Homo sapiens: one gene and its partner. The protein of the gene in region 2 interacts with the protein of the main gene of each other region in a pairwise test. Each region holds a gene or a part of one and is shown on either strand. Other genes may lie near its edges.

Region 1 (7,211 bases), on a different chromosome or scaffold from region 2:
CATGGCATGGCCCCCAGCCAGGCCCTGAGGAAAGGAGAGTCTCAGGACAGCAGCTATGTCACTGTAAGCAGGACCCTTGAAAGCAGGTGCCACCTGCAAAAGGGGGAGCCCTGAGGCCCAGGCAGGCCTGTCACAGTGTGGGGCACCTGTCTAGACAGCCCCATGGCCAGCAGTGGGGGTGGGCCATGGGCCATGGGGACCTTCCTGGTATGGGGTACTGCCATGTCCCCAGGGAATATGGGGGGCCCAGGAAGGTCCCCAAGGCTCGAAGGACCCAGGTCTTTTCATACTGCCAAAGAGATGTAAGGCCTACAGAGGGGAAAGTTTGCATATCTGTGAAGGCATGGAGCCTAGGCATTGGAAGTGTCCAGTAAGCATTTTCATTTGGCAGAAGTATCTCCATGGCACTTCTACCTACAGCCCTGCCACATTTTGCCACAAACTGTCCAGCAGCCCTGAGATGGAGCCCCAGTGTAGACCGTCATGGAGCACACTGGCTCTGGAACAATGAGGAGCAGACTGGAGAAAGCCAGATGGGGTTTACCTGTCAACAGCCACAACATAGTTGTGCTGGGGTGACTGTTCAAGAAAAATGAACTTTGGTGCTCCTGCCGAATGGGTTGTTAGTGTTCAGTCCTTTTCCTACCACTGAGTTGTTTTGTCTGATCATTCTTCCTCCTGGTTCTGCGGGTCTGCCTTCTTGAAAGGGAAGAGCAAGACTCCAGCTCCCTGCCCTGTAGAGGTGCCTTCTACCTTGCTCAGTGTTGAAGCAAAGGAGCAAAGCAAAGCTTAAGTCAGAGATTTGGTGCTCAGCTAATCACAGAGACTTTTAAATGTCAACCAGGGTTTGCTATCAGGCCAAAGCTGGATTATTATTACCCAAAGTAGAAAATTGTGAGACAGAGGCAGGTGGGGAGGGAGGGAGAGAGAAGAAAGCAGAAGGTGGAGGATACGTGGATTTAATTTTTTAAAAATAAATATATGATTCCGTGTCAATTAAAAACAAGTACCCCAGGCAAGTCTTCCTGCAGTCCTGTCTTAGCCGCACACACAGCATAACTGCAAACCCACTTGAGCTCATTTTTGCTCAAAGACCAACTCTATTAAACCCTTAGAATGTTCTGGATTTCAACACACAGTCCACAGACAGCCATTCTATCAAAAGCTTAGTGTTTTCCCTATGACTGGGTTTTCTGGTAAGGTGAACTAAGGCATCCTTTTCCATTTCAGGCTGTGGTAACAGCAGATAACAGCCGCAGAGGTCATAGCCAGCACTTTCTATGCGTCCCTTCATTTAATCCCAGTACTCCTAGGTGGTAGATCTATTATTTTGTCCACATGAATTATTGAAAAGTCTGTCCTAAATTTTAAATGGAACGAAGTACTGGGTTGCAAGTTACTGGTGGCTGTTTCACAGGAAATACTACGACAATGGGACTTTGGGAATGTGTTCTGGAGACTCCACTCCTTGGTGACTACTACATGGAGCACAGAAAATTGTCTTGAGTGGCAGCTATGTGCCAGGTGAGGAGACAGGTTTTACTCACATGACTCCCCAGAAGCCCTGCAGCATCCCCATATTTTATAAAGGGGAAGTACAAGCCCAGAGAGACATCTGACTTGACTAAGTTCACACAAAAACAGCAAGGTCTGGGCCAAGATGGAAGCCCGGGCTTTGCCTTCTTCTTCTGCCTGCAGGGCAGGGGCTTTCATCCTGGCTTCACGCTGATTTCAAAAGCCTCTCATTCTCTTGACACCTCATGGCCCCTGAGTTTATCCCAAGAATAATAAGTTCTACTGTCCTCCTGGAGATGCCGAAGAATCAAAACTGCAACACACAGAGGGCCTGGGTGTGCGCGAACACTGTAGTACACACCGATGACAGCAGATTAAGCCATTTCTCTCTTAGGTGCGTCACCCAACCAGCTCCTGGACCCTTCTGCTGTGCTGCCCTGACAGTCACAATATGTCCTAGTGGACTAATTAGCACTAACTACCCATGTCACCCCAAGGCCATTTAAGAAGACAAATAAAAAAGACAAAACCAATGAGTATTGTGGCTGAAGATGACGAAAAAAAGTTAAAAGCAGGGAGGAATGAATTATTTTTTCTTTCTCAATCTCTCCCTCTGCTTAAACCAAAGAGAGGTTTTCATCTGAGAGCCCGGGAGCTAAGCAGCTACTTTCTACATGAAAAAGTGAAAACATTAAAATAAAATCCCTTTCTTTCAAGCTAACGTTCTAAAACTGAACCTCTGCAGAGGCTCCAAAAGAGAAATGCCTTGCTTTTAAGCCCCTGAGTGAGAGGGATCCTGAGGAAGTGGCAGAGGGGATGAACCTAAGCTTTGGGACATAACAACCGGCACCTCCAGTGGCCACCACTCCTAGCTATGCTGCCTGTGGATGGGGCCCCCAGTGCTGGCCCCTAACAGCATGGGGAAGCCTCCCCAGCCACTCTGAAGCTGTTCGCATCACATCCAAGATGAACCTAGGCAGGGAGGCTGAGTGTGCTTGGGAGATGCCAAGTTAGGGAAGTAAGTTCCCCAGGGTCCTTCAACTTGTGGTGCCTGAGGATAGCTGCTTTTTTTCCAGTGCAGATGGAGACACGGCAGCCTTGGGGGGATGTGTGAAAGTAAGGCCTCCCTCCCTCTGCCTTTCCAAGTGGCTGATCATCTCCTTCCTTCTCATAGCTACTTCTAGGAGAGGCATCCAGGCAGGAACCACTTCTCCATTTCACAGATGGGAAGACTGAGAACCATACTGGAAAGGGGTGTATTTTAATTAAACTGGAGAGTGGGGAACACTGATGAGGAAAGCAAGCTGATAGACGGAAGGCTCTGCCTGTCACTGCCAGCACGGGCACTTGGGCCTTCTTATCAAGGGTTCTGATGGGAGTTTCCACTAGGATTCCAGGTGTCGATCATCTAGTAGCCGAGTTCTGATGAGCTGGACTTTGGGTGGTTGAGGTAGGGAGCAGTGGAAAGGGGAATTGGAGTCTTATCAACCTCTTTGAACACCAGTTCCTTCCCCTCTCTTCTATAAAAATGTCGTAGCAATACCTGCCTGGCAGAGTTGTGAGAATTAAATGAGATGATGAATACATCTGCTCTCAGCACCACACCACACCTGTGGCAGTCCTCAGAGAGAAGAATCACAGCTTTCATTCATTGAGAGCTCACTAAGTGCCAGGTATGCTCAGCTCTTGTGCAGACGTTCTTTTTCTTTGGATGTAAATGTGACATGGGCAGAGCAGGAGGAGCTGTGAGGCTGGCTTGGCTGAGCCACAGGGATTGCTGGCATCTTATATGGCATTCAGGACTATGGAGGGTCCACGGGAAGAAACACAGAAACAGAACCCAAGTATCCTTCGGGGACTCTTGGACTTTCTTCCCCTTGATCTTAGACATGCCTCAGTAAACAGATGCTGGTTTCTATCGAGACTCATTCCTGGGGAAGGACCCCCACCAGCCAAGCAAGGTAAAGCCCAGACTCAGTTACATGAATTACAGGTTTAAGACAGAAGCCTTCCTATGAATATTTTTCTGGCCAGTGGCTTATATAAGAGAAATTTGCTCATTGTATTTCTATCTGGCCAACGAAGGGGTCTAGAGGGGCTTTCAGCAACCCAAACAGTCTTGTCAGCCCTAACTCTGGACCTAAGGAAATAATTATGAATCCTCAAGATCCATTTAAAAGTGTCATTACTGTAGATAAACAAAGACGAGTGGATGCTTCTTCCTACTCCACCTCACTGCAGAGATTCCATCCATCCCAGGGTCACTGACCACTGACTGGATGAACTAGGATTGGTGTGGCAGAGTGGAGTTTTCAGGAGCCAAGAGACTCCTGGATTGTCATGCTCTGTACTCCTTCCCCACGAAAGGAATGTCTAGAACTCCTGCTGAAAGTAGTCATTGCCTGCATTTCCTAGGCAGAATGTGTTAGCTCCCTCCCCAGAAGAACCTGGGCGAAGAAGGTGTTCCAATCTGCATTTGGAAAGAATCCCTCCCGCAAAGAACTCTACACCCTCTAAGAGAAGATAACGTGAGGGCATATTCTCCTCTCTTAGAGGGTGTTTTCAATACTAAATTCTATCTCTGAAGAGAATGAGGACCCGAAGGGGGGCAGTGCACCAAGTTTTCAACTAAAACAAAAGCAAAACTAATCTGCAGTCTTGAAGGTGGGCTCATTCATTCCCCTGCCCCCACTTTTTAAAACATTTTTTTTCTTAAATGAAACAGTTTCTTTTATCTTTTGGCTTCTCGTGTACTCAGAACCATAGAGCTCAAAGCTTCTCAGCTCAACGGAGAACTCAGCACTTCTTGGACTGATAAATAGAGCAGCTTTAAAATGCTTAGAACTGAAGACAGACCAACTGTGGCGAGAGAAAGTAAACACATCCATGCACCAGTCAACCCTAGCAAGCTCCTCGCTGAGATTACAAACTGCAGTTCCTGCCTGAGCCGGAGAGGATGCTGGAGCAGGCTGGGGGACCAGAACCACAAACCAGCCCTGGCTTAGCTCTGGCTTAGCTAGCTGTGCCCCAGAAGAGCTGGGTCCTCAGGGAGTCTTCTTGCGGCCCGGTTTGGATGTTCCTAAGCATAGAAGACTCTGCCAGTGTGTCCCTCATTCGTTTCACATTTGGAAATGTACCAAGAGAAGTGGGAACCAGCTTTACTCTTTGATCTAGATGGGAATCCTTTCCTTTGCATTCAAGCTCTCTGTGTACAGGTGTAACTTGCCAGTGAGAGACTTGGGATTTCTCACAAAATAGAATGTGATAACGACATAATTTGATATGAATATTTGAGGAACTTTATCTCTGGACAATATATACTTTAAACATCCCCCTCCCCAAGTCACACACACAAATTGTTTTTATGAGAACCAATTAATAAATGCTAATTCATTGAGGCATATCTTCACTAAATTACTGTTTCATTTAATTGCAGGGAATTTTCCATTACTAAACTCTCCCTTGCTGATTTTTTTTTGCATTATTTATATACTCTTTCAATTTCACTAATAGTGAGGTTGGTATGTGATATTATCTGATGTTTGTACGTCTTAAATTTATTTTTCATTTAAAATATTTCCTCATTCTTGCAGCTCCACATAATCAGGGAGAAACATCAATAAAAGCAGGCAAGATTTTACAATAAATGGTTGAAAAAGGCACTGGCTGAAATTAACCTGACAGGAACGCGTCCTGTGTGATTGTGTTTCTCTCATTCCAGACGTGCGTGTGTGTGCGTGTGTGTGTGTCTCTACTTTGGGTTAATGTGGGAATGCTTTCCTATATCAATAAGTCACAAGTCGATCTGTGAAAAGATTGTGCATACAAAATGGAGATGAAGATCACAGGGGCTTTAATAATAAAATAAACATAAACAACACTCGAATCTCTTTATAAATCCCAGAGCACAATGTGCGTTTTCTTACTTCCTTTTCATGGACCCCAGATAAAGACTTTGACAGCCAGATATCCAAGATCCGGATCAGCCAGCTTCCTAAAATTCTCCTCTTTTTTTTTAAGGGGTAGAAAACTGGGGGTATCCCTTGGTGGTTAGGGGTTGCTTAGAGACTGTGGTAGAGATTTGGTGTTAACAAAAATGTATTTTGAAAGCAGGATTTCAATTTTCTTATATTGAATGGCAAAGGTTCCATGCACCTGGCTATCTTCATTTCTGAAATGAATGCTTTCATTTTATTCTCTCCAGCTACCTTCTCCCTTTCTTTCCTTTCCACCCCCATTGCCTCCTTTCAGTGTCTTTCTTTTTCTCCTTATTCTTTCACTCCTTTCTCTCTCACAGCAAAATGTTCTGGAGGATGTGAATGATTAAACTGTTTACTCCAAGGTTTAGGTATGAAAAGGCAAGTCACTGTAAGTAAAGTTTCACCTTTATACCCAACTCCATCAATAATTACAGAACAAGGATGACTATTAGTAAATCTTTCTTACAATTGGCTCTTACAAAAATGATTTCATTTTTTCTGGGCATACCAAGTTTGACAGATTTTACTTTTCACAAAAATTATTTACACAGCAGAGGAACCTGCTCCAAAATGAAGGAAGCATATAAAGGGCCGTTGAGTGTATCCATAGGAAAATGAATACCTATAAAATGCATCTCAATAAATTAGAGATTTGAGGCCATAAATAGAACGTTTTGACATATTATATTAGTAGATGCCCTCTAATTTAAACCAAAGTGTCCCTTAGTAATTAAAATTCCATGAGATTGATTTTTTATTTGGTTTCCTTCACTTCCTTTGTCTTCTTCAACAAAATTAGGCAGAGTCCTTTTGGGGGTAGACTGATAAAATTAATTAACTTTCCTTCCACCCCCAAAAAGTTCCAAATAAATGCTTCCAATAGACATCAAAAAAGTGTCAATTAGAAATAATTACTTCTTATCAATCAGTGGGGCAATTAAAGTGACAAAGCTTAAAAAGATACTTATCTTAAAACTAATTCACAAGGTAGCTAAATTATCTCCTAATTAACTTGCATTGTGGAGGGTGGGGGGGAACCATCTTGAAACAAAGATGAATTGATGAACCCCAATACCTCTTTATGTTCCTCAAAGTTGCTTCCATCCCCTGAAACCTTATTTTCAACCCAGGCAGGAAACCTGGGAAGAAAACAGATCCTTTCCAAATGCATTTATTCCACTTTCCTCAATTCTAAAACCAAGAGTTAGGAATGGGGCTTTAGATCTCACATCAGGGAAGTTAGAGACATCGTCCTCTGCCTTGTCTTATTTTACCACTTGAATGAACTATTTTCGGGACTGGTGGGAGTGGGCTGCGACAAGTTATTTAAGATAACTTTTAATGACAGCCAGCCTGCTTGCTTTTACAAAACTCTCTTCCTCATTGGTACAGTATTGTTTTCACTTTTATATATATGGGGCATTTATCGTTTCTTCTGCATCTTTGAATTTTTTTAAAAATGTTTTTGCTTTAGAGAATTTCGTCCCTGATGCAACAAAAATAGCGATTTTAAGGAACGTTCAGCCCATCGCTGACCTGCGCACGTTAAAATGATTCGCGTTCAACATTCCTGCAGAATAAAGCTGTAGGAAAGACAACGTTAAGACTCTCTGCAAGGCAAGACCAGCCAACGACGAGGCGACCCCGTGGCAGGCTGGGCGGCGGAGGCCGCGCGGGGAGGTTTTCTCGAGCGTCCCCGGTTATTGGGAAGGGTGC
Region 2 (7,211 bases):
CTGAGGTGAGCGTATACACAGAGGCAATTCTGCAAAACCTTACAGGCTCAGAGACTTAACGTTCTGGAAGGAACCCTGGAAGCCAGTTAGTTCCAGCTCATTATTCCTCATGGCCATAAGAGAAATCTTCATTATGTCTCGACAGGCGCGGCGGATGGGCACATCTGGAAACATCCAGAAAGCTTGCCTGTTCATAGCCGTAGGGCCGCTGCTGCTGGGCAGACGGCGCTGTCTGCGGTGCTCGGTAGCTTCCGTACTGCTGGCCTTGGCCTTGCTGGTAGCCGGGGTACTGTGACGGGGCTCCCTGGGCAGACCCTGAGAAGACACCAGGAACCGTGAGGCCGGCCAAAACGGACACCTCTTTCTTTTTTTTTCTTAACTTAAAAATTTTTTTTAAAACTTCCTCTTCTCCTTGAAAAATTCCCGTCTCAATGCATCAGCCTTTTGTCAATCTCCAGAACACCTGGCACCTGCACGTGGCTCCACGTTAACTCTGTACAGCGAGAGCACCACGTAACCGACTCACCAGCCCCTCCAGTCCTGTGAGGTCCCAGGACTGTGCCCCAGGCCCCCCACCAGCATGGCGAGGGCTGATGGGCTCTCTCCATCACCCCAGAACTGCTGCTACCTGAAGGCAGGACAGCCCTCCAGAACCCGCTGGCCCCAGTCACACTGGCTGCTGTAACTTGTCACTGAACTACCACGGGAGCTGCTGAAAACCTGCAGGCAGGTGAGACAGAGACATCGTCTCTAGGAAGGCTAAGTCAAAGGCTCCGGCAAGAACTGATAGAGGCCAATTTTTTTTTTTTTTTTTAGGCAGGGTGTCACTCTGTCACCCAAGCCAGGCTGGAGTGCAGTGGCGTGATCTTGGCTCACCGCAACCTCCACCTCCCAGGCTCAAGTGATTCTCCTGCCTCAGCCTCCCAAGTAGCTGGGACCACAGGAGTGTGCCACCATGCCTGGCTAATTTTTGTATTTTTTGTAGAGATGGTCTCACTATGTCATCCAGGCTGGTCTCGAACTCCTGGGCTCAAGCAATCCTCCTGCCTCAGCCTCCCAAAGTGCTGGGATTATAGACATGAGCCACCACACTGAGCCTCAAGTAATTTATTTTTTTATTTTTTGAGGAGTCGTCTCACTCTATCGCCTAGGCTGAAGTGTAGTGGTGTGATCTCGGCTCACTGCGACCTCTACCTCCTGGTTCAAGCAATTCTCCTGTCTCATCTCCTGAGTAGCTGGGACTATAGGCCCCCACCACCATGCCCAGCTAATTTTTGTATTTTTAGTAGAGACGAGGTTTCACCATATTGGTCAGGCTGGTCTTGAACCCCTGACCTCAGGTCATCCGCCCACCTCAGCCTCCCAAAGTGCTGGGATTATAGGCGTGAGCCACCACGCCTGGCCTCAAGTAATTTTTATACTATTTAATTAGTAATGGCTGTAAAGGGCTGAATAAGCACAGCAGAATCAGGCACGTGCCTCATAAGAAACCACGTGTGTGGAGCTCATCCTGAGAACTGAGATCTTGCTCCAACAAAAGACCTGGGGCAGCCCACACCTTATTTTTCAGAAGTTTCCTGGGTGATTGTAAGCTGCAGTGAAGGCTGAGACCCACAGGCTTTGACCTGCTCTGTCAAAGAGGTTGAAGCTGGGCCTGAGGCGTGCAGGTGATGGATACACGGGACACTGGCTCCCGTCACAGGCCACGTGGGCAATGAATTTATGTTTAAGTTAAAATAAGATGTTTCAGGTCTACGTGCATGGATGTTTCCAACTTTTCTGGAAACCTAAAGGTATTCAAAATAAGTTTATTACACATCTGCCTGAGCACCAGGGTCACCGGGCACGTACCCACATGTGGCAGGGGCAGGGGTGGGCGCTGGGGGGCCCCGAGGAGCGTGCTCGCCTCTTACCGTAGCCCTGCTGCTGCCCAGGGTAGCTCTGCTGGCTGGGGTACTGAGCACGTACCCATGTGTGGCAGGGGCAGGGGTGGGCGCTGGGGGGCCCCGAGGACCGTGCTCGCCTCTTACCGTAGCCCTGCTGCTGCCCGGGGTAGCTCTGCTGGCTGGGGTACTGCTGCTGGGAGTACGTCTGCTGCTGCGCGGCACCCTGCTGGTACCCGGCCTGCTGCTGGCTGTACTGGGAGTTTCCTGGAGGGAGGAGGAGACACAGAAATGACTTTCCCCACCTGGGCTAAGGGGGCTCATTCTGTGGCCCACTCACGACACGGTAACTTTGGAATCCCAAAACCAAATCCATTGCTTCGGCATGTTTATTTTTTCACAACCATTCAAATACTATACTACACCTTTATCTTATAGAAATACAAATGGAAAGCTAAGAAACGAAATGGTTAATATGACAACTAAGACAGAGATGAACGCCAGCGTCGCGGGTCAAATGTGCTCCCCAGAGAGATGCTGATGTCCTAACTCCAAGTACCTGTGAATGGAACCTTATTTGGACATAGGGTCTTTGCAGATATAATTTTTTTTTTTTTTTTCAGAGACAGGGCCTCGCTCTGGGACCCAGGCTGGAGTGCAGTGGTGCAATGAGGGCACACTGCAGCCTCCATCTCCCTGGCTCAAGTGTTCCTCTCACTTCAGCCTCCCAAGTAGCTAGGACTACAGTGTGTGCCAGCGTGCCCAGATAATTTTTTTTTTTTTTTGAGATGGAGTTTCGCTCTGTTGCCCAGGCTGGAGTGCAGTGGCGAGATCTCAGCTCAGTGCAAGCTCCGCCCCACCCGGGTTCACGCCATTCTCCTGCCTCAGCCTCCCGAGTAGCTGGGACTACAGGTGCCCGCCACAACGCCAGGCTAATTTTTTGTATTTTTAGTAGAGATGAAGTTTCACCATGTTAGCCAGGATGGTCTCGATCTCCTGACCTTGTGATCCGTTCACCTTGGCCTCCTAAAGTGCTAGGATTACAGGCGTGAGCCACGGTGCCCGACCATGCCCAGGTAATTTTAAATCTTTTGTAGAGACAGGGTCTCTCTATGTTGCCCAGGCTGGTCTCGAACTCTTGGCCTCAAGCAATCCTGCTGCCCCTGCCTTCCAAAGTGCTGGGATTACAGGCGTAAGCCACCATGCTCTGCGCAAAGAATCCATTTTCTACTTTACTTTTCTGGTTGGAAATAACTTTCCTTTTTTAGAAGCTGTAAAATTTAAGTATTTTAAAACTGCAATCTAGTATTTTTTTTAAATAACAGCTTTATTGAGATAATGCACACTGGAATGGCTTAAAAACCTATCAGGGTAATTCAATCTGTAGTTAGGTGGGATGACAAAACTAACACACGCTCTTATTCCAGGCTGAACTCCTCCTAAGGCGAGAGCTTCGGAAAAACTTACTTGAGCCTTTCCAGTTATTCTCTATCCAGGAAGTATCTTGAGTCTTGAACTTCCACGCCTTCCTCTAAATCCAGGGCCGGTTCCAGCAACAGCTGGCAAACGAGCTGTCACCGTCACGGGAGAAGACTTAAGGTCACTATCCTTTCTCCTGCCCCCATGAAAGCCATCTGAGACATGGGGGAGTGGGTTTTCAAGGGTGTCAGGCTTTTGGGGGTCAGCCTGCATATTCTCATGTTTTATAGCCCACTTTATTCTTTACATAATAAAGGAGCCAGTTTGTGGCCGGGTGCGGTGGCTCACGCCTGTAATCCCAGCACTTTGGGAGGCCGAGGCGGGTGGATCACAAGGTCAGGAGATCGAGATCATCCTGGCTAACATGGTGAAACCCCGTCTCTACTAAAAATACAAAAAATTTAGCCCGGCATGGTGGCGGGAGCCTGTAGTCCCAGCTACTCGGGAGGCTGAGGCAGGAGAATGGTGTGAACCCAGGAGGAGGAGGTTGCAGTGAGCCGAGATCGCATCACTGCACTCCAGCCTGGGCGATAGAGTGAGACTCCATCTCAAAAAAACATAAACAAAAAAAAAAAATAAAGGAGCCAGTTTGTAGGAAACGGGCCAGCTTTGCCCTGGCACCCAGCAGGTATGCAACAACTGTGAGAGTGCCAGCTCAGAACACCCAGCCCCAGCACACAGGGACCAGGCCTGGCTCTCACACCCCAGTGGGTGCTCAGGCGATCTAGTGGGAACTGGCAGCAGCCGCCCTATCCCCAAAGAAAGGGGGCTGCTGAGATAACTGCAGGGAAAGGGGGCACGACATCTGTGGAAAAGGCCTTTGCCGTTTTCAGATGTGTTGCATGAAATCTGCAGGGCTCGGGGGAGCCCAGGCCGTGCTCTCAACAGGACAGCAACGGGGCGGGCAGATGTGGGGCCTTCCTCCACAACCAGCAAGTACTCCAGGGTTCTTTCTTTTCTTTTCGAGATGGAGTCTCGCTCTGTCACCCAGGCTGGAGTGCAGTGGCACAATCTCGGCTCACTGCAAGCTCTGCCTCCGGGGTTCACGCCATTCTCCTGCCTCGGCCTCCTGAGTAGCTGGGACAACAGGCGCCCGCCACCACGCCCAGCTAATTTTTTTCTATTTTTAGTAGAGACGGGGTTTCACCGTGTTAGCCACGATGGTCTCGATCTCCTGACCTCGTGATCCGCCTGCCCCGGCCTCCCAAAGTGCTGAGATTACAGGCGTGAGCCACCGTGCCCAGCTCTTTTCTTTCTCTAAGAATCCTCTGGCATTCTGCGGGGTGCCCGTGAGAAGGTGCCGGGCAGCATGGCGCATCTGTGTGTGAAACAAGAGGCCACGGCACACCCTCTGCTTCCTCAGAAGGAGCAAGATGTGGACACAATGAGCCACGAGGAACATGTGAACGACGCTCAAAGCCGTGTCACATAAAAACACAGTGATCCACACGAGGACGCAGCCAAGGCGGCCCCAGCACTGCCCAGGGAAGATGAGTCCCACAGGCCCCGGCCACACCACCCTGTCGTCCACTCCTGGGACACGCTGGTCACCACCTGGCGAGGGCCTGAGAAATGCACACGACACGCCAGCCGCGCTCGGGACTCCAGGAGGTGTGGACGGTGTGGACAGCCATAAAGTGAGGTCCTTTCAGTTTCTGTGACAGCCAATGATGTTCCTTTTTTTTTTTTGGAGATGGAGTCTCGCTTTGCCGCCCCAGGCTGGAGTGCAGTTGCGTGATCTTGGCTCACTGCTACCTCTGCCTCCTGGGTTCAAGTGATTCTCATACCTCAGCCTCACAAGCAGCTGGCTTTACAGACATGCGCCACCAAGCCCAGCTAGTTTTTGTATTTTTGGTCGAGATGGGGTTTCACCATGGTGGCCAGGCTAGTCTCAAACTACTGATCTCAAGTGATCCACCCGCCTCAGCCTCCCAGAGTGCTGAGATTACAGGCGTGAGCCACTCTGCCCGGCCCCAATGATGTTTAATTTAACTTCTGAAGCTGCCAATACATCTACATGATTCAAAGGTACATACAGACGGACTCATACCTTCAAGAGGTCCTGGGAAGGTGGCCGCTTCCACCCCTGCTCTGGACTGCCTGAGCCCTAACCCCATCTCCTACCCGGAAGCATTTGTGTTGGTTGTTTTGGTGTTTGTCCATTGGCTGACGGTGTGAGTGTGCGTGTGTGCAAGGGCACAGTCTCCTCTTGCCTGCATTTTCACAGAGGCACATCCCATGCGCCCAGCTCCATACTTGGCTTTGGCAGCTCATGGGCGGTCTCTCCTAGCAGCAATGGCGCCCAGATGCCAGGTCACGAGGGGCTGCGCTCTGTCCAGTATGCGTCACTGCAAACCTCACTGTGACGCGAACGCGGGACTCGCACCCTCTCCTGGCCCCTCCCCCACCGAGCACCACATCCCGATGCTCCTGCCCAGCACAAGTGACCCCGTGGCCCCCGCTGTCCCCTCCTGGCTTGGTCAGCCCCACTCTGGTCCCCTCCTATTACTGGTGCCCTGCGCATGAACACCCTCTCGTTTTATCAGATTCTGCAGGCTCCTGACTGATGCCGTCACCAGGAACAATTCCAGCACCAGCCTGTCCCACTCATCCTGCTGTGGGATGACTCAAAAGTTGGAAAATTCTTTTTATTTTTGAGACAGGGTCTTGCTCTGTTGCCAAGGCTGGAGCGCAGTGGTGTGATCATAGTTAAGTACAGCTTCGACCTCCCGGGCTCAAGCTATGCTCCTGCCTCAGCCTCCCAAGTAGCTGGGACAACAGGCGCATGCCACCACACCTGGCTAATGTTTTTTAGTAGAGAGGGGGTCTTACTATGTTGCCTAGGCTGGTCTCGACCTCTCAGGCTCACGTGATCCTCTGCCCTGGCCCCCACAATGCTGGGATCACAGGTGGGAGCCACTGCACCTGGCCTGATGCTGGGATCACAGGTGGGAGCCACTGCACCCGGCCTGGAAAGTTCTTTATGGTGCCTTTGACCCATTCCTCCTAACGTCCCCCCAGCCTCTCCACTGCACCATGGGCCACAGTTGTGTTTGAAGGTGGCTATGACACATCCGCCAATCTCTTCAAAGCAAAGCATCTCCAGGCCTCTCACCCCTGCAAGACTTCACAGTACCACCTGCTGTAGGGTAAAGTGTCACCATGTATGTGCACTCCTCATGTCAGAGTCTAACAAACAGATGGAATAAAATGCTTCTAAATCAAGGAGGAAACCACACCATCTGTCTTACTGGCCTTAAGAGGTTACTAAGCTTTTCAGCAAATTTCTCATCAATGATGGAAGGCAAGAGTACCTAACCCACAACAAGCTACGGAAGTACCTATCAGCCAGGCACAATGGCGCACACCTGGAGCCCCTGCACTGTAGGAGGCTGAGGTGGCACTTGAGCCCAGGAGTTCAAAACCAGCCTGGGCAACATGGCAAGACCTTATCTCTACAAAAATTAAAAAAAAAAAAAAAAAAAAAAAAGCCAGGCCTGGTGGTGCATGCCTTTAGTCCCAGCAATTCGAGAGGCTGAAGCAGGAGGATCACTTGAGCCTGGGATTTCCAGGCTGCAGTGTGCCACGATCAGGCCACTGCACTCCAGCCTAGGTGATAGGGCAAGACCCTGTCTCTTTAAAAAAAAAAAAAAAGTAGCTACATCAGACACTAAAAGGCTGAGCAGCACATCCTGCGTTTGTTTTTGGGACAAAGTGTGGCAGCCTTGGGCAGACGCATGTGGACACCTCGCCATGGACAAGGCTGAACCCTGTGCTCCAGCTGGAAGGGACAGGGCCAGGCCCATGATGGCAGAGATCCTGCTGACTCCCAGGGCTTACGGAGGCACC

What was found. Proteins that work in one complex are often made in the same cells at the same time.
Region 1: the proteins of SS18L1 (region 2) and PAX8 interact in binary tests that used the Homo sapiens proteins (3 or more experiments, as listed by UniProt).

What each region holds. Positions count from the first base shown.
Region 1 is NC_000002.12:113,268,784-113,275,994, forward strand, and holds part of PAX8 (paired box protein Pax-8), read right to left. Parts: intron 1-7,211. UniProt on the Homo sapiens protein: Transcription factor for the thyroid-specific expression of the genes exclusively expressed in the thyroid cell type, maintaining the functional differentiation of such cells.
Region 2 is NC_000020.11:62,167,621-62,174,831, reverse strand, and holds part of SS18L1 (calcium-responsive transactivator), read right to left. Parts: intron 2,151-7,211; coding exon 2,031-2,150; intron 316-2,030; coding exon 188-315; coding exon of another isoform or gene 101-187; exon of another isoform or gene 1-100. UniProt on the Homo sapiens protein: Transcriptional activator which is required for calcium-dependent dendritic growth and branching in cortical neurons. Recruits CREB-binding protein (CREBBP) to nuclear bodies.